Regions from separate parts of the Homo sapiens genome. Here region 1 is reported to be linked to region 2. The links are microRNA targets in miRTarBase. Many come from high-throughput screens and were not tested one by one. Region 2 holds a microRNA gene; the other region holds the end of a gene's coding sequence.
What was found. Region 2 holds the annotated microRNA hsa-miR-5591-3p (AUACCCAUAGCUUAGCUCCCA, at 1,135-1,155, shown strand). A microRNA usually pairs through its seed, bases 2 to 8, with sites in the 3' UTR of a target mRNA and lowers its output. Matches are read on the target gene's strand: a 7mer-m8 pairs with bases 2 to 8, a 7mer-A1 pairs with bases 2 to 7 and ends in A, and an 8mer does both.

Region 1 (3,422 bases), not on the chromosome of region 2:
TATCCATGCAGATTTCGGGAATGTCCCCCCAGCTCCAGTATATCATGCCATCACCCTCCAGCAATGCCTTCGCCACTAACCAGACCCATCAGGGTTCCTATAATACTTTTAGATTACACAGCCCCTGTGCACTATATGGATATAACTTCTCCACATCCCCCAAACTGGCTGCCAGTCCTGAGAAAATTGTTTCTTCCCAAGGAAGTTTCTTGGGGTCCTCACCGAGTGGGACCATGACGGATCGGCAGATGTTGCCCCCTGTGGAAGGAGTGCACCTGCTTAGCAGTGGGGGTCAGCAGAGTTTCTTTGACTCTAGGACCCTAGGAAGCTTAACTCTGTCATCATCTCAAGTATCTGCACATATGGTCTGATGAAGCCTTTAAGTTAAATGACATTTGGATCTGTCTAACATATTTTCTTTTTCTTTTTTAAAAGCTATGTGGAAAGAAACTCTCTGTGGTTTATAAAATGTACATATAATAGAAAATGAAGGCTCACTGGGTTTTTTGACTTTATCATGGTGAGATTGTAATTATCTATGGTATATATGTATGCTGTATATACATAGCACATGGAGTATCACGGCCCCTATTGTTCCCCTGTTTCATCCAGTTGCACGGAGTATTGGCATGCGTGTAGTATGTTTAAGCAAAGTTCTCAGACTCTTTTAAAAACAAGATGGTAAACTTAAAACTTGGCAATTATACTATCCAGAAGAACACTTATAACTTAATTTATCAGAAAAATGCTCTAAACGGTTTCATACTTGATGTATTGATAACCAGCAGTAACCAGCATGTAGAGTCTTGTGATTTCTGTTATTCTTGGACACAGTGTGAGAATCTAAAATACAAAAGCCAGTTGAAGTCTTAGTGTTAGTCCTGAGGTATTTGTAATCATGAAGGATCAGCTTTTTCATTCCTGCTTATTATTTACCACACATACTATATGACCTTGGGTCTATAAAAAAATCATAACCCATAATAATTGTTATTTTCTTAAGGAAGGTAAAGGAGAGGCTTGTGATTTTTTTTTTTACACTTTCCATTGGGCACATAAGAGGTTCTTATTCATCTGTAGAGAACAAATTTCCAGTATTTTCGATTTTTTGCTTATTTTATATATCAAATAGACCATTAAAGAATGTTCTATAAACATTTTTAAATTCCAATTTTCACCAGGGGAGGAATATGTGATATGAGTGGAATGGCAAAAGGAAAATAAATCCACCTCAAATTCATTGATTCCAATGAGAAATGTCTATCTTTTAAATCAAGAGTAATACTATTGTTAACTATACCTTATGTTTTTGTATAGTTTGTTTTTAAATTTAGAATATTTTTTCCATCTTGCTCTGAGCTTCCTGACCGATAGTATATAAGTAAAAAAAATGCATTTATGCTACTTATTTATATCTTGTAATTCCTACACATTGAACCCTTTTCCCCTTCTTAACCTTGTCCGTCTGCCTGAGTCTTTCCCAAAACAGATAGTTCCTAGGCCTGTATGGTGTTAAATAACACGGTGAGGAATTTCAGTAGGTTATCTCCAGCAATCTGTCTTTTGGGAGCTATAGTGCAAAGGCCAAAGCCCATTACTATAAAGACCCTCTTGGAGGACTAAGAAGGAAGATACTAATTATGATAAAGGAACTATAAAACTTTTAACCTCAACAGAATTTGTAATGTCAGAACTGGAGAAATTAAAATCAGTATTAAATTTTTTAATTCCTAAAATAATATATGCATGGTTGAAGAGTTAAAAACAAGTAACTTTGAGAGCACAGTATGAGATAAATAAAAAAGGCTAAGAATACATGATGAGGCACATTCCCCTTCTGAGGAGAAAGCGAAATAACATGTCTGTGCATTGACCCATTCATTACATTTCATGTATCTTAAGCAAAAGAGCATGATTTTCTCTCATTGCTAAAAAGAGTTGCTTTAACTCATCCCTGGATTTGGTGGGGAAAGGGTACAACTCCTGATTTGCTGTTTCACTTTGAAACAACACAATTTGTTAGATACTTAGGGAGATATACTGTTGAATTTGCACAGGATGTGACTCTGTTTATACATATTAACAAATTTCCTTTTGGATTCCTTAGCAGTTCATCAAATTAGTATTAAATTTTTAAATTTAAAACTAGCATGAAGGGACATGAAATATTTGCAGTAGGTGGATCTATGTAAGATGTTTGGGTATGGCATTAATAGCTTGACAAAGATTTGGGGAAAGGTGTTAAGAATGAGTCCATCTCAGCCAATAGTGCTTGGTGTATAATTCAAGAACAGAGAGTTTTCCATCTTGAAAAAACATGGAAAGTAATGCTCTATACCCATATGTATTAATAAGAGCATTTTCCTTCTTGCCGTTGATCATTTCAGATGATACCACAATATGAGTATAATTTTTTATTAATCTTTTTTCTGGTAAAATTTTAGCAATATTGTACAAATGCTTTTTTTAGGTTTTACTGTAAATATTAATCACCACGTCACTTCAGAGACTAGCCTTTTATTGCTGAATTAAATGACATGCATACATTGATAATTATATATCTGTATTTTATTAAAAAGTACTTAAAATTATATTAAAATATGTTATTAAACCCTTTTATGATTTTGGAGGGTAATCATTTTAATGTCTAAAAATATTGATCCAAGAATAAGCACACACATGCACACCCCAAACGCAAATTCTGTACCTCTCAAATACATGGCAGAAAGAAATGGGCCTGCTGTTCATGTTTCATGTGTTAAATGTAATTTCTTGGTGTGTTGACCATGTCATTGAAGGTGAAGGCCCTGACAAATGTTGAACACATGAAAATTTGAATGTGAGAGGAAAGGGATGGGGTGGTATGTTTTGTTTTGGGTCCAGGGGAGAAAGGCAAGGTTACAAGAATGAGTGGCTTGCACCACTGACTAGTGATGACAGATTACTTCTATGCCCCTTGACTAGTAAACATTCCAAGGGACATCGCGATGGGGTGAGGTTGCTGCTATCAAGACCAGTCACATTTTGAAAATTAACACTTGCTTCCTTACAAGCTGCCTTCCAGAGGTCAACAGCTTTTCACAAGTGAGGCACCCAGTTGCTGACCCTTGATTTCTGGAATGTAAGGGGTCAGGAATCCTTGGTGGCCCCCAGAGAAGGTTGGGGCACAGTGTAACCTATATAAGGAAGGATCATACTCACTCTTTACATCAATTAGCAAAATTTTGAGGAAAAAGAATCTCACTTTTAAAATGTAAATAGCTCTTCATTACCCCTCCAGACTTAATCCTACCAGTAACTCACACCTTAGTGTGAAATTAATAAACAGCAGCTTTGGAGATAGCTGGAGGTTTGACTTAGAGGAAAAAGTAATTTTTGTAGCAGGACAATTCTGGGAAGATTTGTATGGGAAGGAGAAGGTG
Region 2 (3,422 bases):
AGTGGCTATTGGGGTCCTTTTCGTTCCAGAATGATCTGGAAAACTCCATCTCGGTTTGAAATGTTCCCATTTGGAGGAAACCTGAATGGTCCAGAGGGTCCCAAGGCTGACTTGCAATTTAGATTCCACTTTATTGCAGATGTAGGGAGTACCTTAATGCGGGTCTAAGACTCAGGTAAAAATTTTCCATAATCACACCTACTAATGGATGAACCAACTCTAAGTTTTTGTTTTTGTTTTGTTTTGTTTTGAGACGGAGTTTTCGTTCTTGTTGCCCAGCCTGGAGTGCAGTGGCACAATCTTGGCTCACTGCAACCTCCGCCTCCCGGGTTCAAGCGGGAGCCTCAGCCTCCCGAGTCGCTGGGATTACAGGCAAGTGCCACCACGCCTGGGTAATTTTTTGTACTTTTAGTAGAGACGGGGTTTCTCCATGTTGGTCAGGCTGGTCTGGAACTCCCGACCCACAGCGCCCGGCCTCAAAACTAAGGTTTTTTTTGTTTTGTTTTGTTTTGTTTTGATTTTTTTTTTTTTTTTTTTTGAGACGGAGTCTTGCTCTGTCGCCCAGGCTGGAGTGCAGTGGCGCTATCTCGGCTCACTGCAAGCTCCGCCTCCCAGGTTCACGCCATTCTCCTGCCTCAGTCTCCCGTCAAAGCTGTTTTTAACAGCATTTGAAATAGAATGAGGATGTATTTTTTGGCTTGGCCATTTTTTTTTTTTTAAGACAGAGTCTCACTCTGTCACCCAGGCTGGCGTGCAGTGGCTCGATCTCAGCTCACTGCAACCTCCGCCTCCCGGATTCAAGCGATTCTCCCGCCTCAGCCTCCCGAGTAGCTGGGATTACAGGTGTGAGCCACTGCTCCTGGCCCTGGCTTGGCCATTTTTAAGCACGGTAATCATCACTTTAAATATCATCTCTAGGCCTGGCATGGTGGCTCATACCTGTAATCCCAGAGCCTATGAGTTTGAGACCAACCTGGGCAACATAGCAAGACCCCCTTCTCTATTTAAAGAAAAAAGAAATAATATCTATGTATTCTAAGTGAAGTAACTCAGGAATGGAAAACCAAATGCCATATGTTCTCTCATATAGTGGGAGCTAAGCTATGGGTATACTGAGCTTATGTATGCATCTGCATACCCATAGCTTAGCTCCCACTATATAAGAATGATACAATGGACTATATATACAGAATGATATATACCTACATACAGAAGGATATAATCAACTTTGGAGACTCAGAACAGGGAAGCTGGGAGAGGAGTAAGGGATAAAAAAACTGCATATTGGATACAATGTATACTCCTCTGGTGATGAGTACACTAAAATCTCAGACTTCACCGTTATACAATTCATCCGTGTAACCAAAAACCACTTGTACCCCAAAACTATTGAAATTTTAAAAATATTTTTAAAAAGAGAAATATTATGAACATTTACATTCCAAAAGGACATAAATAAATAAATATTATCTATACTCTTTACAACAATCTTGCCAGGTAACTATTATCCTCATCTTACAGTGTGATATTTTGAATATGCGTGATATTGCTCCCCTGTGTAAAATCCATTAGTGGCCCCCCCAAGCTTTGGGGATAAAGTCTCAATTTTTCACCAAGACCTTTGAGATACAGTTCCCAGCCTCCTTCCTGGCCACTCTCCCATCCTCTTGCACTTCATATTCGATCATAACACACTACTGCCAGTGTCTCAGTCTCTCCTTACTATTTCTCTCCACCCAGCCTCAACTATCCCACTCTGTCTAGCTCAAATGCCCTCTTTACTTCGTGATGGTCACTGCCTCCAAGTCATTCTTGCCCCTTTAGGATTTAAGTGCCCCTTCTGCTGGCTCCCATAAGATGGGCTTGTTTCTAGCATAGCACTCATACGACATGATACTTTTCCATCTCCCCAGCTAGACTGAGAGTTCTTTCAAAGGAGAGACAATTTTTAAATTTGCCTTTATGTTCTCAGCACCTAGCACAGAATATTTGTACATATTAGGTGTAAATGTTGGTTAAATGAATGGTTTAGGATTTCTGTCTTAAATACTGTAATCAAAAACTAATCTCAAGTTCAATCTTCATATTTCATTGCATTATTGCAAACTGTCGAAATATTACTGATATTAATCGGGTGGTATATTAGTCAGGACTTTTTTGGTGGCAAGTTACAGAAATCTAATTCAAATTGGCTAAAGCAAAAAGGGGCAATTTCCTGGCTCAGTAACCAGACCACAGGGATGAATGGGCTCAGTGACCAGGAAGGCCCTTTATTTCAGCCTCTCACGTCCATTTCTTCCTCGGGTTGTGTCATCTTCTCCTTTGTAGAGGAAAGATTTCTCTCTCCCAAGTTTAGTTTTTTCAATCCCAGAAATGTATTTGGCCTATGCAGCAAAGCCCCAAGGGTTCACATTAGTAAAGGCAGTAATGTCTGTTTTCATTCTATTTTTAAATCAATAAATACATGTAATAATTTAAATTTGTACATTTCCCTTTTAGAATGGAACATTTGAGAGTCTCTGAGTAAACATGCACAGAGGTTTGGGAAGGTGAATTTGCTCATGAGACAATAACTCATTCTGTTTATTACTCCACTAAATATTGCCAAAGCGGGGCAGAGTTGCTCCTGCCTGTAATCCTAGCACTTTGGGAAACCGAGGGAAGAAGATCCCTTGAGCCCAGGAGTTCAAGACTAACCTGAGCAACATAGTTTTGTAGAGACAAGACAAACCTTGTCTCTACAAAAAATAAAAAATCAGCTGAGAGTGGTGGCACATACCTGTAGTCCCAGCTACTTGGGAGGATGAGGTGGGAAGATCACTTAAGCCCGGGAGGTCAAGGCTGCAAGGAGCTATGATTGTGCCACTGCACTCCAGCCTGGGTGACACAGCAAAAACCTGTCTCAGGAAAAAAAAAAAATAAATAAAATAAAATAAAATAAAACAAAAAATACTGCCAGCTTTCATGACAGTTTTGACCATTTCATGACTTTAAAAATCTTTGTCTTTTACTAGTCACATTGGGTTAGGGGGAAAATGTTATCTTTCATAGATAAATACTGTTTACATAGTACAAAGATTTCTCAAACCTGGTCACTATTGACATTTGGGGTCAGATAATTCTTTGCTGTGGTAGGCTGTCCTGTGCAATGGAGGAGTTCAGCAGCATCTAAACTCTACTCACTAGATGACAGTAGCTCCCCCATTTTCAGTGTTGTGACAATCAAAAATGTCTCCAGACCTTGCCAAATGTCCCCAGGAAGTCAAAATTCCTCCCCCTCACTCCACCTTTGAAAACCACTGACTTATTCTATAGTAGACAACTGGTTAAAGACATGAAGCACAAAGAACAAGGACATTGACATGTAACCAGTATGAGGGGCATAAAAATGATTATTTTACACAATTGCCTCAAGGAGATCT

Region 1: miRTarBase lists TBX18 as a target of hsa-miR-5591-3p. The part of its 3' UTR that is shown has no 7-base or 8-base seed match.

Annotation. Positions count from the first base shown.
Region 1 is chr6:84,733,634-84,737,055 of GRCh38, reverse strand. TBX18 (T-box transcription factor 18) reads left to right here. Exons shown (of 8, transcript NM_001080508.3): 8 at 1-3,422. The coding sequence ends at 371. Among named protein-coding and RNA genes, the nearest start is that of TBX18, 29 kb to the left of the region's middle.
Region 2 is chr4:39,410,820-39,414,241 of GRCh38, forward strand. MIR5591 (microRNA 5591) reads left to right here and starts at 1,091; the gene lies at 1,091-1,155. The region is part of intron 1 of KLB (klotho beta); the gene reads left to right.